Regions from separate parts of the Homo sapiens genome. Here region 1 is linked to region 2. Evidence: fine-mapped expression QTL. Tissue or cell type: whole blood. Region 2 holds a variant in brackets; the other region holds the start of a gene. All regions are shown on one strand. Distances are between the middles of the regions.

What was found. PIP is the estimated chance that this variant, and not a neighbour inherited with it, causes the effect.
Region 1: it holds the start of COP1, and the variant in region 2 is fine-mapped to the expression of COP1 in whole blood (TOPMed, PIP above 0.99).

The regions. Positions count from the first base shown.
Region 1 is chr1:176,203,015-176,211,121 of GRCh38, forward strand. It overlaps COP1 (COP1 E3 ubiquitin ligase), which reads right to left and starts at 4,272. Exons shown (of 20, transcript NM_022457.7): 1 at 3,558-4,272. The coding sequence starts at 3,964. COP1-DT (COP1 divergent transcript) reads left to right here and starts at 4,651. Exons shown (of 5, transcript NR_185981.1): 1 at 4,651-4,857. RefSeq lists silencers at 3,710-4,069, 4,100-4,309 and an enhancer at 4,810-4,879.
Region 2 is chr1:176,091,802-176,099,908 of GRCh38, forward strand. The region is part of intron 9 of COP1 (COP1 E3 ubiquitin ligase); the gene reads right to left. Among named protein-coding and RNA genes, the nearest start is that of COP1, 110 kb to the right of the region's middle. RefSeq lists an enhancer at 4,632-5,131. The variant T/A (reference allele first, on the strand shown) is at 4,052.

The DNA of each region.
Region 1 (8,107 bases), 110 kb after region 2:
ACTATTTTCTATCAAGCAGATGATTAAAAGTCAACCTTCTCGGCCGGGCGCGGTGGCTCACGCCTGTAATCCCAGCACTTTGGGAGGCAGAGGCGGGCGGATCATGAGGTCAGGAGATCGAGACCATCCTGGCTAACACAGTGAAACCCCGCCTCTACTAAAAATACAAAAAATTAGCCGGGCGGGGTGGCCGGCGCCTGTAGTCCCAGCTACTCGGGAGGCTGAGGCAGGAGAATGGCGTGAACCCGGGAGGCGGAGCTTGCAGTGAGCCGAGATCGCACCACTGCACTCCAGCCTGGGCAGCAGAGCGAGACTCCGTCTCAAAAAAAAAGAAAAAAAGTCAACCTTCTCATAAAGAGCTTACTATCTACATGCAAACGTATACTTCTGCTGCAAGAATGGCTGGGACTTGCAGAGGTAGAAAACTTCATTTGAGATAGCTGGAAAAGCTAATACAAAGGCAGTAGTTATAGAATTGTTTAAAAAAGGAGTCCGTATAAAAAACAGAAGTCATCTTTCAAATACAGACCAGACTCACAGTCTAGTTAAATGAACCGTAAGAAAATTTTGCAAAAAACAAAATAACAAAGACTTCCTCTGAATGTTGAAAATGTATCCAATGTCAAGCTAAATACTACTGTCCTGTATTAGATTCTCCATCAATAAAACACTGTTAAAATTATTCAACTTGATAATACCTTCAATCTTTTGTGTAAAATAAAATATAAAAATGCAACCTAAACCCCTAAAATGTTTATGAATTCTTCAATTAAATATAAACTTACTTTCAAATATAAGTCAGGAGAGGCCAATGTTTATTACTGAAATTAGGTACGTGACTATTTAAATCAACAGTTCTCAAGGAGGGGAGAAGGACAGGTCCCTATCACCAGGGGAGCATATGCAAATTACACCACCCACCCCAGCCTCCAATTCAGGTACGTCTTCTTGGGATGTGGGCAGGTAAGAAAAGGGAGTGGTGAGGGATAAAACATTTATCTCATATGATTATGAAACAGCTGCTTCTCCTCCAATCTGTGCCGTTTAAGAACCACTGGGCTAAATACATGTACTCGAACTTACAGATCTGAAACTCTCTAATTGCACACAAAGAAAACACAAAGTTGAGAACTGGGAAATCTGAGTTCTCATTTTGTCCTTACCTGTCCAACGACAAACAAAATTACTTCTCTGTGCCTCAATGAGAAAATAATTAGTATTGTATTAAAAATAAGTTATATATAACATCACAGAATTGTTCTAAGGATAAAATAAAACGTGAAGCATAAGCATATCTTTAAAATGTCCCATAAATGAATAAGAAATTATCATTATTTGAACTTGGGCTTCGTTTAAATATAAAAGCATAGAATAATTTGAATTGGTTCACAGTTTGACCTTGGGGCATACAAGACAAGACCCACAGCCAAACGGGGGGAAAAAAAAAGAAAAAAAGGATTCCTTGGGCCTTGCCTAATCCATATCATCCTACCCCAAGAGTCTGGACAAAATCAAACCTGGCTTGAGTTTTAAATCAGATTCTCATTAATTAATTCTTCTGAATATTAAACCTCACCAGAAAAAGAAATAATTAACTAATGAGATTCTTAGAAAGTGAAATACTCAGGACCACGGTGGCTCACACCTGTAATCCCTCCCAGCACCTTGGGAGGCCGAGGCGAGCAGATCACCTGAGGTCAGGAGTTCAAGACCTGCCTGGCCAACATGGTGAAACCCCGTCTCCATTAAAAATACAAAAAATTAGGCAGGTGTGGTGGCAGGTGCCTGTAATCCCAGCTACTACTCGGGAGGCTGAGGCTGGAGAATTGCTTGAACCCGGGAGGCGGGGGTGGCAGTGAGCCAAGACGGTGCCACTGCACTCCAGCCTGAGTGACAGAGCAAGACTCCGTCTCAAATACAAATTTTTACTCTTTTAAAAAAAGAGTTCCCAATTCCCTATAGCATAGCCTGCAGTGCACTGAACTTCATATGGTGCCTGGCCGACAGTGAATGTCATACAAGTATCTCTTGAATGACAATGATCGATTCCTTATTCCTCACATCTTTTACTTTATTTTAGTGTACTTACACGGAGGCTAACATGTTTGTGTTCGTTAAGTATACTAAAAATTAAAATGCAAACAGTGGCTAAAAAGACAACTAAATTATGCACACCCCACTTTGTTTTATTAGCTTATTAGCTACTCGCACTATCGACTGTGTAGAAGTGCAAACACTTCTCAGCCCCAACCATAAACTGCTTATTTATAAATAACAATCATATTACAGCCCAAATGTTCAATGAAAAACAGATTAATTCTGATAAAGAATAACGTACAAAAAAGCAGAAAGGTGAATAAAGACATCATTTTTCTGCAGGAACTAGAAACCGTAAGTCTAATCAATAACTTTCCTAACAGTTCCAACTTCTAGCTCTATCTTATTTAATAACACCAACTCAGACCATCTTCAACCCTGATCTGAATCAACTTCCCTCATAATGACTGTGCAAGCAGCCAACTTCCTACATGCCTAATATTTGATCAACAATTTCCTCAAAAAGGAAAGTACGAAACACTACCACTTCTTAAGCAGCTAGCTAACAGCAATTACTTCTCATAATCCTACCAATATCTAAAATCCAATAAAAATTCCAAAACACTCTCAAGCAAGACAATCAACACCACCTTTCACTTCATATGACTAACCTCTCTATCCCAAATGTCATGACTAAATGTTACTCTGTATCATTCAAGATGCCAACTATGACGACAAAATGTCTATACCTAGCATTTCTCAAGTCAGAAGTTCCAGTATACTCTGTTATCCAGTATAGTACAGTTACATCTGACACAGGGATGTTATTTAACAAACGTGGTTCTCTCTTTTCAAGACACTTGGTGGAGAAGTGAAAAATCTGTTAACAGACTTTGACTACAGTCGTCTCAACAGCCGATTCCTAAGTGGCCCATCCTTTGAAATGGAAGAAGATATTTACACATACATACGATAGGTACTTACATTATTATAAAAAGCATGTCTTTATAAGACATCCATGCTTATGTTTACAGCATCATCTACCATACTTCAAATAAATTTTGACCAACTCCACCCCTCTGCATCCGAGGAAGCTTAGTCCTCTCCATTTGCAAATTTCATTCATCTCAACAAGGACTCCTGATTGACTGAGTGTTCAATTCATCAGAGAGGCAAAAATTTTAAGACTCAACCTCTCTGCCAACTTTGTTATCCAAAACCATTTATTTGACCTTCCACCTCTTCCCTCGTCATTCGTTAAACTCCCTTCACTTCCTCCTCAGCAACACTTACCTACCTCTTTATTATCCCCACCCTGCCTCGCTACTCCAACATTCCTTCACCCCACCAACCAGGAGCTCGAATGCCTGCAAACGCTCGATTCCCTCTGCAGACACCACCACAGCACCAGTATCCCAAGCTCTCCAACAAGCCACCCCCACACCAGACCCCCCGCCCCCAAGCCTAAGCGGCAGAAACTCATAATTTAGGGACAAGGAGGGAGTGCTCTTCAAACCCACCATACGAAGTCGTTGCTTTTGTCCTCGTAGGAGTTGATGAGCCCGTTGCAGAGGGGGGCGAGGAGAGGTCGCTTCCTGCTGCCGCTGCCTAGGCTGGAGCTGCTGCCTCCTACGCCGGCGCTGGGCCTGGCCGCGCAGCTGTGCCGGGACAGGCCCGTGGACACCGCCCCGCCGCCGCTACCCGATACGGCGGGCGCCACCAACACAGGCCGCACCGGGCCCCCGAGGCCGCCCGAGCCGGCGGCCTGGGCCACCCCGCCGGACACCAGCGCTGCCGCCGAAACCGCCACGGAAGGCGGCGACGGGGAAGAGGATAAAGACGAGGAGGCGGAAGTCACCGAGGAGGCCGCCGAGGACCCGGGGCTTGTCCCAGCGGAGCCCGACCCGGCCTGGCGGCTACCAGACATCGTGACTCCCTCCCCTCCAGCCGGGCGCTCGGAGGAGAGGGACCGCGACCTCGACCCTCCGCCGCCTCCCCTCCCCTCAGCCTCAGTGCATCCTGAGGACGCCCGCCGAGCCGGAGGTGGGGCTGAGGAACAATAAAGTTGCGTTTTTTTTTAAGGCAGCCACACAACAGCGTCCCACGGGAGGGGGCGGAGGAAACTAAAAAAGCGGAGTAGAAGGCACTACCGCTGTCGAGGCCGCCGCCGCCACCGCGGTCCCTGTAGCAGCCAACCCCGGCGCGCCGTGGCCGGCCGTGCGCGCGCGCGCGAGCGGCGGAAGAGGCGGGCGTGGCGGGGGATACAACTGGGGACGCAGCGGGGCTGCGCTCAGACGCTCAGGGCGCGCCCTCGGGGTCGGGGCTCCCTGGCGAAGGGAGTCTGTCTGTCCCAAGCCGCTTTCGTTCCAGAAAACGTGCCAGAGGGCAGGCCGTCTTAATACAGTGAAAGAATTGAGGAGACTGGAATGAATGGTATAGGTGGTGGGGTGGTTTGAAAGACGGGAACGTAGCGGGCGGAAACTCTCGAAAAGCGACTGCGCAGGCGCGCGCCGGGCGCGGACGCTCACGGGTCACCCAGGGTATCCGCCCCAAGCGGAGAATATCGGCGCAAGCGCGGAGTAGCCGTGTCACGCATGCGTGCGAACGCACCACATTCCGGAACGGGAAGAAGGAGCTGTCTCTCTCTTCTGAGGGGTAGGCAGGTGCTTCCGAATCGCGGAATGTAGGTGCTCATAAGCTGGAGACCCACGGAAAGAACCTAGAAGCTCCGAGCGGTTGCAGACAGCACTGCATTGAGCCAACGACTCCTGCTCTACTGATGGTGATTCCACAGCTTTGTGAGGAATAAGTTAAGATGAAGTCAGTGAAGTTTTCTGCGAATTGCAAACATTGTAGCAAGTGTTACCAATTTTATTAGTTCGACCACGACTTCACTCCTATATTTTGAAAAGCTGTTTGCCAAATTGAACATAACAATAATGGGAAAACAGATTTTGCTCAATCAGACCCAGCTCAGTCGGAACCTAGGTTTATTGTGGATCTGATATAATTCTAGCACAAAACAAGGAAACCTAGCATTTAATACCACCAGAAAATATACAATTTCTGGTAGGCTTTTTTAGAATATTGAAAATTGATTATAGGCGGGCGCGGTGGCTCATGCCTGTCATCGCAGCACCTTGGGAGGCCTAGGGGGTCGGATCACCTGAGCCTGGAGGTGAGGATCAGGCTGAACCTGAGGTTAGAGACCAGCCTGGGCAAGATAGCGAAACCCCGTCTCTACAAAAAGTACAAAAAATTAGCTGGGCATGGTGGCAGCAGGCCTGTAGTCCCAGCTACTCGGGAGGCTGACATGGGAGGATTGCTTGAGCTGGGGAGGTTGAGGCTGTAGGGAGCGGAGATCCCTACACTCCAGCCTGTGAGACAGAGACCCTGTCTCAAAAAAAAAAATTTTTTTCATTTGCCGCATTCTAAGGGGTGGGAGTTAGAAACAACTGTGTGATTTTATCCTTTTCAATTCTATCATTCTATGATTCTTATATATTTATTTGGGAATAAAGTGTGAAAATACTCATGACTTAGTAAACTACGTGCGTATTCAAGGAGGTAAAGGAAGGCAAAGGTTTTTAAAATTTAAAAAAAAATGAGAATTACATAATTGTTTTTAAACCGTTATCCTTGGCTACGAAGATCAATAACAAGGTGACACCAGTCGGAAACTGGACAGGAAGTTGCTGGGCAGATGTTTTTGCGGAAGTATTTTTTGTGTAAGATTGTGGCTTTTGGCCAGGTGCGGTGGCTGAGGCCCATAATTCCAACACTTTGGGAGGCCAAGGCGAGTGGATCACCTGAGGTCAGGAGTTCGAGACCAGCCTGGCCAACATGACGAAACCCTGTCCCTACTAAAAATACAAAAATTAACCGGGTGTGGTGGCATGCACCTGTAATCCCAACTACTCGAGAGTGTGAGGCAGGAGAATCGCTTGAACCCAGAAAGCGGAGGTTGGAGTGAGCCAAGGTCGTGCCACTGTGCTCCAGCCTGGGCAACAGAGCAAGACTCCATCTCAAAAAAAAAAAAAAGATTGTGGCTTTTGCAGGTTTTTGTGATAGTTTTTGTCATCAGGTGTGCAAGCATGAGACCCCTTCTCTTCATGACCTCTGAATCTATTTTTCAGTGTTTTAAAAAATATATTAGTGACTACCTCCCACCCCCTTTTGTTTAAGAGATGGGGCCCCCCACCCCCTTTTGTTTAAGAGATGGGGCCCCCCACCCCCTTTTGTTTAAGAGATGGGGCCCCCCCACCCCCTTTTGTTTAAGAGATGGGGCCCCCCACCCCCTTTTGTTTAAGAGATGGGGCCCCCCACCCCCTTTTGTTTAAGAGATGGGGCTGGGATGCAGTGACTGTTCACAGGCAAGTCTATAGCACAGTACAGCCCCCAAATTCCTGGGCTCAAGCAATCCTGCTGCCTCAGCCTCCCAAGTAGCTGGAACTGTAGGTGTGTACCACCGAGCCCATATAATTCCATTTTGATTACGACAGCTTTCACGGAAATTAGGCATTAAGTAGGGTAAAAACATTTATAATGTTTTAAAGATTAATTTTTTAGGAGATTAATCTTTCAGAAGAGGTGGGAAATTAGGAACAAAGACTAGGAAAAATTAAAGCAGTTCGAGCGTAAATGATAAGATTCTAGATTAGGATGGTGACAAAGAAAGGGAATATTCTGAGAAAAACACTAAGGAACTGATGGTATAAAGTTTAATTACTCTCTGTAAAACTGTCTTTACCATCCTTGAGAGTATGACCCATATCTGTCATATTCATCACTGTCTATATCAGTGCTTGACACAATGGTCAATATGTTGATTAAGTAAAAATGATGAAACACAAACAGAAATGACTCCAAACATGACTTCTGGGTAACAATAACGTAGTGACAAGATTGGAGGTGTCCAGTAGATGGTTTAGTTTTGAATGTTTTGAATGAGTGTGGGATGAAAAAAACTCAAAGAATAGGCAGTGGTCGAAAACACAGGGTTAAGGCACAGAAGAAAGTTCAGCACATGAGAGACATTTGGAAGTTACTAAGGGCATAGTATATCATCATCAAATAGTTATTATGGACCTATTATTTGCTAAACATATTGCTTCCCCCATGATTCTCAAACATCGGTGCCCAGAAGAATCACCTAGAGAGCTTGTTAAAAACCAGATTTCTGAGCTCCACCTTATGAATATGCATTTGTACCAGCACCCAGGTGAATCTGAGGCAAGTGACTAACACTTTGAAAACACTGTGATTGGCCGGGTGCGGTGGCTCATGCCTGTAATCCCAGTACTTTGAGAGGTTGAGGTAGGTGGGTCACTCGAGGTCAGGAGTTTGAGACCAGCCTGGCTGGCATGGTGAAACCCCGACTCTACTAAAAAAATACAAAAATTAGCTGGGAGTGGTGGCATGCTCCTGTAGTCCCAGCTACTTGGAAGGCTGAGGTAGGAGAATTGCTTGAACCCAAGAAACCCAGGAGGCAGAGGCTGCAGTGAGCTGAGATCGCACCTCTGCACTCCAGCCTGGGCAACAGAGTGAAACTCCGTCTCAAAAAAAAAAAAAAACAAAAAACACAACACTGTCCTGTGATTGATAATGTAGAGAATGTGAAAGAGTTTCCTTCCAGGCCAGGTGCAATGGCTCACGCCTGTAATCCCAGCCCTTTGGGAGGCTGAGGTGGGTGGATCACTCAAGGTCAGGAGTTTGAGAACAACCTGGCCAACATGGTAAAACCCCATCTCTACTAAAAATGTAAAAAATTAGCCAGGCATGGTGGCGCATGCCTGCAATCCCAGCTACTTGGGAGGCTGAGACAGGAGAATGGCTTGAACCCAGGAGGTGGAGGTTGCAGTGAGTCGAGATCGTGCCATTGCACTCCAGCCTGGGCGACAGAGTGAGAGTTTCCTTCCAAGTTGCTTATGCTGAGGACTGCTGTGATTTGAATGTACCCACCAAAACTCAGGTTGAAATGTAATTGCCATTGTAACAGTGTTGAGAGTTGAGACCTTCAAGAGGTCTCATGATTAGGTCATGAGGAGTACTGTTAGTTATTGCAGGAGTG
Region 2 (8,107 bases):
TATCAGTATTAGCAATAAATGTAAATGGAAACAATCACTAATAGAAATAGTGACATAATAGATTTAAAATAAAGGTATGCTATCTGCCAAAGAAATACTTAAAACAGAGACAAACTAAAAAATTAGAATAACATGAAAGAATACTAACTAAAAGAGAAAAAATAGATTCAAGATGAAAAACATTAATATGGATGAAAACAGCCACTGTATATGAGAAAAGGTTCAATTTAACATAACCCATCTGTATGTAATAAGAGAGCCTTAACATTTTTCAGGCAGAAATTGCCAGAGAAGTGGACAAACCTATTAACACAATGGGAGATAAATCTGCAAGTCAACTGAGTTATGCAACTAGTGTTATGCAAGTAACACTAGTTTATATATGGCCAAATATAAAATTTGATATAATGAATATATAGAAAACACTGTACCTAATTTAAAAATAGGCATTCTTCTGAAGCATGCATAGAACATTTACAAAAACTGACCATGTAATATGTTACTGGATAATATGTTTACAATCTTGAGAAAGGGCAGAATTTCTTAAATGAAACACAAGAAGTACTAATATAAAAATTATAAATTGCATGACATAGAAATTAAGAACTTCTGTTCACCAAAATTAATCATTAAAAAGGTGAGACAAGATACAAACTGTAAGAAGATATTTGCAGTATCCAAAAACAAATGATTAGTATCCAGAATATATCTATTTCTCTAAGACCAACACAAAAAAATGGGGAAAGACTTGAAATGCCATTTCACAAAAGACAAAACATAAAGGACAATAAATATAAGAAAAGGTGCTGTTTTATAGTGGCAGGAAAATAAAAATTAAAGTCGCAACTATGCTCTATTTATTACCACTAAGGTGACAATCATTTTAAAGTCCAACAATACTAATTATCAGCAAGAATGCTGAGAACCTGGAACTCATACACTCATGTAGTGGGAGTTTTAAATTGATAAAAGTACACTGGAAAACAATTTGTTATTAACTCAAAATACAAATTTTGCATACCCAATGCCCTTTAATTCCTCTCCTAGGTACATATCTAGGGAAACTCTTGCACCTGTGGATCTGGAGACATGTACAAAGATGCCCTTAATAGCAAGAACAACAAAAACCCTAGAAGTGCATGTAATGTATACAGATTCAACTGAAAAATTGTAGTATAGTAACACAATGGAATATTATACGTCAGTGACAACTACAGCCACAGGCATCAGCAATTAATCTCTGAAAAAACAAATCTCAGAAATCTTACTATAATATTTTTATAAAGTTCAAATACAGCCAAAACAAATAATATAGGGGTGTGTATATATGTGGTAAAACTTTTTTAAAAGTCAACATATTGATAAACATAAATATCAGAAAAATAATTATATTTGGATAGGAAGCAGGTGATAAAATTGGTTAGGAACACATGAGTAACCTGTATACTACTTTTAATATTCTATTATTAAATAACTAACACAGAAGCCAGTTCCATAAAAGTTTTGCTATATTTCTAATTTACATATTAATGAAATATATTCCTTTGTAGGTACCAACATATTTTTTAATAATACTAAGATTGTAATTCTAGATTTTAGCCTACAGATCTCTTCAAAAGTGATCTGGCTGGGCATGGTGGCTCATGCCTGTACTCCCAGCAGTTTCGGTGGCTGAGGTGGGCGGATTACAAGGTCAAGAGATTGAGACTATCCTGGCCAAAACAGTGAAACCCCTTCTCAAAATATAAAAATTAGTGGCCAGGTGCGGTGGCTCACACCTGTAATCCCAGCACTTTGGGAGGCCGAGGTGGGCAGATCACGAGGTCAGGAGATCAAGACCATCCTGGCTAACACGGTGAAACCCCGTCTCTACTAAAAATAAAAAAAAATTAGCCAAATGTGGTGGTGGGTGCCTGTAGTCCCAGCTACTTGGGAGGCTCAGGCAGGAGAATGCTGTGAACCTGGGAGGCGGAGCCTGCAGTGAGCCGAGATCAAGCCACTACTCCAGCCTAGGTGACAGAGCGAGAGACTCTGTCTCAAAACAAAACAAAACAAAACAAAACAAAAACAAGTTAGCTGGGCATGGTGGCGCACACCTGTAGTCCCAGCTACTCGGGAGGCTCAGGCAGGAGAACCACTTTAACCCAGGAAGCGGAGGTTGTAGTAAGCTGAGATTGTGCCACTGCACTCCAGCCTGGAGGCAGAGTGAGACTCTGTCTCAAAAAAAAAAGGAAAAAAAAAAAAGTGATCTGTTTAACGGAAAAACAGATAAGACTTCAAAGCCTGAAAGATGAGAATAATTAACAATAATCAGGAACAGGGCATATAAAACAAATAGGAAGTAGTCAGCAACACTGTTTTGTTTTACTTATTTGGCTTCCAGTTTTTATAGTAAACTCATTTTCTCAATTATTTTCCTGTATTTATTCTTGACATTTCTTAAATTTATTCAAAACCCTAGAGTAAATCCTTTACTCAAAAACTCTACAAGCAACTAGGTTGCCTTATAATTGTTGGTAAATATGCAACACTTGGGTCATCATCATATGCCAGTTTAATTATTAAATTATAAATAATATTAATATAAAAAATAGAAATGTGCTATGTATGCAGAGATAAATGTTTTGAAAATACATATTGGATGCAGATAGTCTACAAGGCCAATCTTCAAATAAAACAATTTCAAGATAAGCTCTTTTACCTAGAGGTAGATATAAATACGACACAAATCAAACAGAAATATTTATCAACTATGTTAATTTTACCTAGCTTGGTTCTAAAGAAAAATGATCACATTTAGCAAACTCAAAGATAATTAAATTTCACCACAGCAAAAACAGAAGCATATCTTATTTGGTCATTGGAAAAAGTTAAAAAAAAAAAAAAGTCCTCAAATAAATGCTAGAAAGTTAATAGGCATACTATGAAGATAAAAGAGCAAATTAGATGATCATACAAAAAGATAATTTATGGTCAGCCTGTAAATTATGAAAAATCTTTACACATATAACTACTTTAATTCCCAATAAATGCAATTAACATGAAAACAGAAAAGCAGCAAGCAAAACTGAATATTCTATTTCATATACTTAATATAAAATAGCGGAGTACAAAAGCAATGAGATCTTCAAAAGACTAATGAAATCAATGCTTGTATAATAAAATAAGTAACTTACCATGGCAAAGTTCCCTGTCAATTCCACTAAGAGGAGACTCCTACTTCAAATGAAGCTAAAAGTGTCTGTATGATTGACTGAAACCTGAAATTTTTCCAATCTACAAATACTTTTTTCTCAAACTAATTTCATAAATTAACACTGCATGGAAAACTATCATTATTTACACAATAAGTAAACTTTATAAGTTCAAGGAATACATACAAAATAATAAAACAAATTAACTATTAAACCCATACACACATTTTCATACAAGCAGATTTAATGACTAGCTTTAAAGCAAAGAGTTACAGAATTTAGAATAGTGGTTATCATAGTGTGATCCCCAAAATGTGGCTGAGGACCACTGGGAGTTCTCTAAGATCTTTTCAGGAATCTGGGAGGACAAAGCTATGTTCTTAAAAATAGTAAGATGTTATTTGCAGCCTGGTGTGGTGGCTCACGCCTGTAATCCCAGCTCTTTGGGAGGCCAAGGCAGGCAGATTGCTTGAGTCCGGATCCAGACCAGCCTGCGCAGCATGGCAAAACCCTGTTTCTATAAAACACAAAAAAAAATAAGCTGGGCATGGTGGCATACACCTGCAGTCCCAGCTATTGGGGAGGCTGAGGTAAGAGGATGGCTTGAGCCCAGGAGGTAGTTGCAGTGAGCTGAGATCCTGCCACAGCACTCCCGCCTGGGTGAGAGGGCAAGACCCTGTCTCAGAAAAAAAAAAAAAAAAAAGATGTTCTTTGCAATTTTCCTTGTGCTTATGTTTGTACTTGTGATACAAAAGCAAAGATCAGTATAAGACTGCTGGTCTCTTAGCACAAATAAAGGCAACAGCACCAAATCCGACTGGTAGACACTGTTCTTCATTACTATTCATAATTTTTTT[T/A]AAAAAAACATATAAAAATCTGTTAAGAATCAGTTCACTTAAGGATGCCCTTAACAAGGTCACACAAATTAAATCCTGCATTAAATCCAGGCCTTTGCATGTATACCTTTTTACTATTCTGTGACAAAATGAGAAGTATGCACTGTACTTTATCTGCTAGCAGGACTCTCTCTTGCTTTGCTGAGCGTTATTTTTCCTTTTTACCCAATAAATTCCACTTTCCTCATCCTTCTAGGTGTCCACAAGCCTAATCTTTCCTAGTTGTGTGACAAGAGCCTGGTTTTAGCTGAACTAAGGAGAGAGTTCTGCAGCATTTTTGCTGCCCAATGTGAGGCCAAAGGAAGGGTGAGTAAAATGTGAACCCAAAACCTCTCACTTTCGCTTCTGAGCCTTTTGGTCCTATGGCATGCCTCTTCTTTTTTTTTCAGGACAGTAACAGCACCTATCTTTTCTTTTATAATACTGGAGGTGGTCCACACCCACTTAAATGGCCACAGGCTCAGGCTCAGGATGGTTGGGCGAATGGCAGCTCCCCACTCCCCTTACCTCCTGGTTTGGGTGCATGGCCATGTCTGCCACATGAGTGCAGTGTCCAACGACCACACAGGGCGGGAATGAGCCACAGCCACTGTCCAGGCCCCAAGGCGGCCTCAGGGGCCTGGGCCCTGCATGGTTGACTGGCCAGACTACCATTGGTCTGAGCCAGGGGGAAAGGAACCCATTTGTATAAGAATAAGAGGTTCTTCTCCCAGGGTTACCCTTACACTATGAACTGTTTTTTCTCTACCTATTAGCAGTTAACTTTTACGTGAGAGGATTTTTTTTTTCCTTTTTAGAAAATGTTTTACAAGGCCAAGACCCCAACTATCACTGTTTATATTCTCTGTAAAGTTTTAACTATGAAAAAGGATTTATATTGGTCTTAAGCTGTAGCCAATCTGGTCTGCTTTACATAACTTTCTGTATGGTAAGTAGCAAACTTTGCTGCAGGCCTCCATCTTGTTTTACGTCCTTCAGAGCCAGACCTGTAACCACATGACAATGTTTTGTTCTAGCCTCTGCCATTTTACATTTGTGGCCCGGGGTTCGATCCTGGCTTAGGGAATGAGTCCTTTTTGGTTTGATACCTGTGCAACCTTTGCTATTTGTTGATTCTCTTCCCCTCCACGAAATGCCTTGGATTTTACTTTCTTTGAGCCTTTAGTAAAGTTTGAAAGCCAGAAATATTGGCCACTTGGGATGGCTAAAGTCAGGTAATAGGGGATTTAAAAGGATTTTCTTAAAGAACACTCAGCTTAATTAAAAGTAGATATCCAAGTTGTAGGCATAGGTAAAAGGTCTTTATGTTTTTCTCTTCTAGGACCTTGTTTTGTTGAAAAAAAAACGACTGAATTATTTTTCTCCATTTTTCCTTGCCACTCTCAATGCACACATGAGAAGGAAGAGACCTCTGTTTTCCTCATGGAACACCAGTAATTAAAAGCAAATAGATCCCTCTCAAAATCTGTTTTTGCCTCATTTATGCCTGTTTGTTAGGCCTTAGAAGCTGAATGTTTTCCTAGCCCTGTCTCTTAAAGGCTCCACCTGGAGACCATTAATTCAATTAGGAGACTGGCAAATGAAAGATCTTATGGCAATTGGGTTTTCTTCTGTCTATCTGTGTACATATATATGTGTTGTGTGTGTGATGTCTATAAAAAAGCTCTTTTTTTTATAGAGCTTTTTTTATAGACTGGCTGGGTGCAGCAGCTCAAGCCTGTAATCCTAGCACTTTGGGAAGCTGAGGCAGGTGGATCACCTGAGGTCAGGAGTTCAAGACCAGCCTGGCCAGCATGGTGAAACCCCATCTCTACTAAAAATACAAAAACTAGCTAGGTGTGGTGGGACATGCCTGTAATTCCAGCTACAAGGGAGGCTGAGGCGGGACAATCGCTTGAACATGGGAAGCGGAGGTTGCAGTGAGTCGAGATCATGCCACTGCACTCCAGCCTGGGCAACAGAGTGAAACTCCATCTCAAAAAAAAAAAAAAAAAAAGCTCTAATTAATTGGCCTAAAGGAAGATAAACACTTTGATCAAATGTTTTTTAAAAGGAAAATAAAAGCTGTAGTGCCTTTCAGTTCACGTGACTTTAATCTTTAAGAAATAAAAAACAGCCTTAAAGATTATTGGTAAAATACAGATGTCATCAAAATGTAAATAGGTAAACTAAATTATATAGGTCAGATATTAGGTTTGCTAAATGTTTTAAGGTTATAACCTGCCTTTTTTGGTTTTTGAGAACGATCTAACTTGATGGCTCCACATTTGGTAAAACCTGGCGACATAAGGAACTAACCATGCCCTTAATTATGCTGGAAGAAGTCAAACCTTGGCTGCACCAAGCAAATAATTAAAACAATTTACCAGGTTTTAAAGGTAAAATTGCTAAGAGTTACCATTATAATATGTAATTGAAACTATTGGAAATAGATTTACATGTGAGGTGTGTTATGATGTGTTTTTAATAAAAGATTATAAGAAGGTGTGGAAATGTAAATTTTTGCCTAGGGTCTAAGGATTGTTCTGAATTAGATAAGATAAAGCTAAAAGTTTAACAGAGCGAGACTCCATCTCAAAAAACAAACAAACAAAAAAAGCTAAAAGTTCAAACAAGTGATGGAAGGATTGTAAAAATTAATCTTCCAAAATAAATTCTCTGTGTTAACATATTGACTAACTTCAAAAAGGCATTATATGGTTTTTCTGTAAACTAAGCATTGAAATAAAAGCAGAAAAACGTACTCTTAAGGAACTAATCTGCTCTTTAGGAAAATTTGTAAAGGGTTATAAAAGATTTTTGTTTTTCAAATTTCTGAGTCATCATTTTGGCAAAATAAATAACTTACCTGGAATAATTTGGAATTCTATTTCATAACATCAAGTGTTTTAAACCTCTAACATATTTAACAGGCTTCCCAAAATCAAACTTCAGTTTCAAAATTGTCTTTCCTGATGCCTAGCTTTTGGATGCTGCAGAGAGTCCCTGGAGTATCCAAATGAGGGGTAAACAGAACACGTTTACTTACATGAGATTGCCAAAATGGTGTTCAATCTTCTTTAGGTTATATTTTGGTGACTACTACTAATATATGTTTCAAAACTGTATGGGATTCCAAAAATTCTAATGTCTAAAGTATATGCTATCCATCATAATTAAGGTTGTTATGTTAAGTTATTGTAAACCACAGAGATAATCAAACTACTTTGTCAATTGTGCTTCTAACTGTAACTACCCTGGACATTTTGTTATTCACAGACAATTGCTGTCTTGTTTTGATCCTTTTCAAAAAATGGCTTATAACAAGCTATAGGACTCTAACAGGTACTCTCAAATACAGGTTTCTAATAACTTTGGAGATTGTAACATTACAATACAGGAAAAACGTGCAGGACTCATGAAGAACTAAAATGTTGATGAATATCAAGCAAAATAAGAGTTAACTAAATGAACTGAACTCACCAAAAACTGAGGTAATCTTTTTAACTTTTGCTTGGAATATTGCTGATCCTTGTTTTGTTTTTTCATAGTCAAGGAAACTTATTTTGAACTATTTACAGTCTTTAATAAATGAGTATGGCACACTCCTGTGAAAAAAATTTGGAGCATATTTGTCTCTCTCTCTCTCTCTCTCTCTCTCTCTCTCTCTCCCTGGCTTCTCCAGAATTTGGAAACTAGTTGTAAGTGTTCTTAACTTATGGCAATATAGTTGTTTACATCAGTGCAATAAGAATCCATTTTCTTTTGCAACTGGATGCAACTGGAGAAATGTTGTTTTACCAAGGCTTAACTTGAAGGGTATGCTTCCCTTTAAGGAGTCAAGCTCGACTTGCAGAGCCAATAAAAGCCCCTTGGGAAAAATGGCCTCATACCCTTGTCTACACAGCTGCTGTAGAGGGTTCCTGACCTGTGATAAGTAAAGAATGTCACCTTCTACAGGCCCAGAGCTCCAAGTTTATTTTGAGACGTTAAGAGAGCAGGATCACCCAACTCACAGGCATTTGAGGATACAAACTG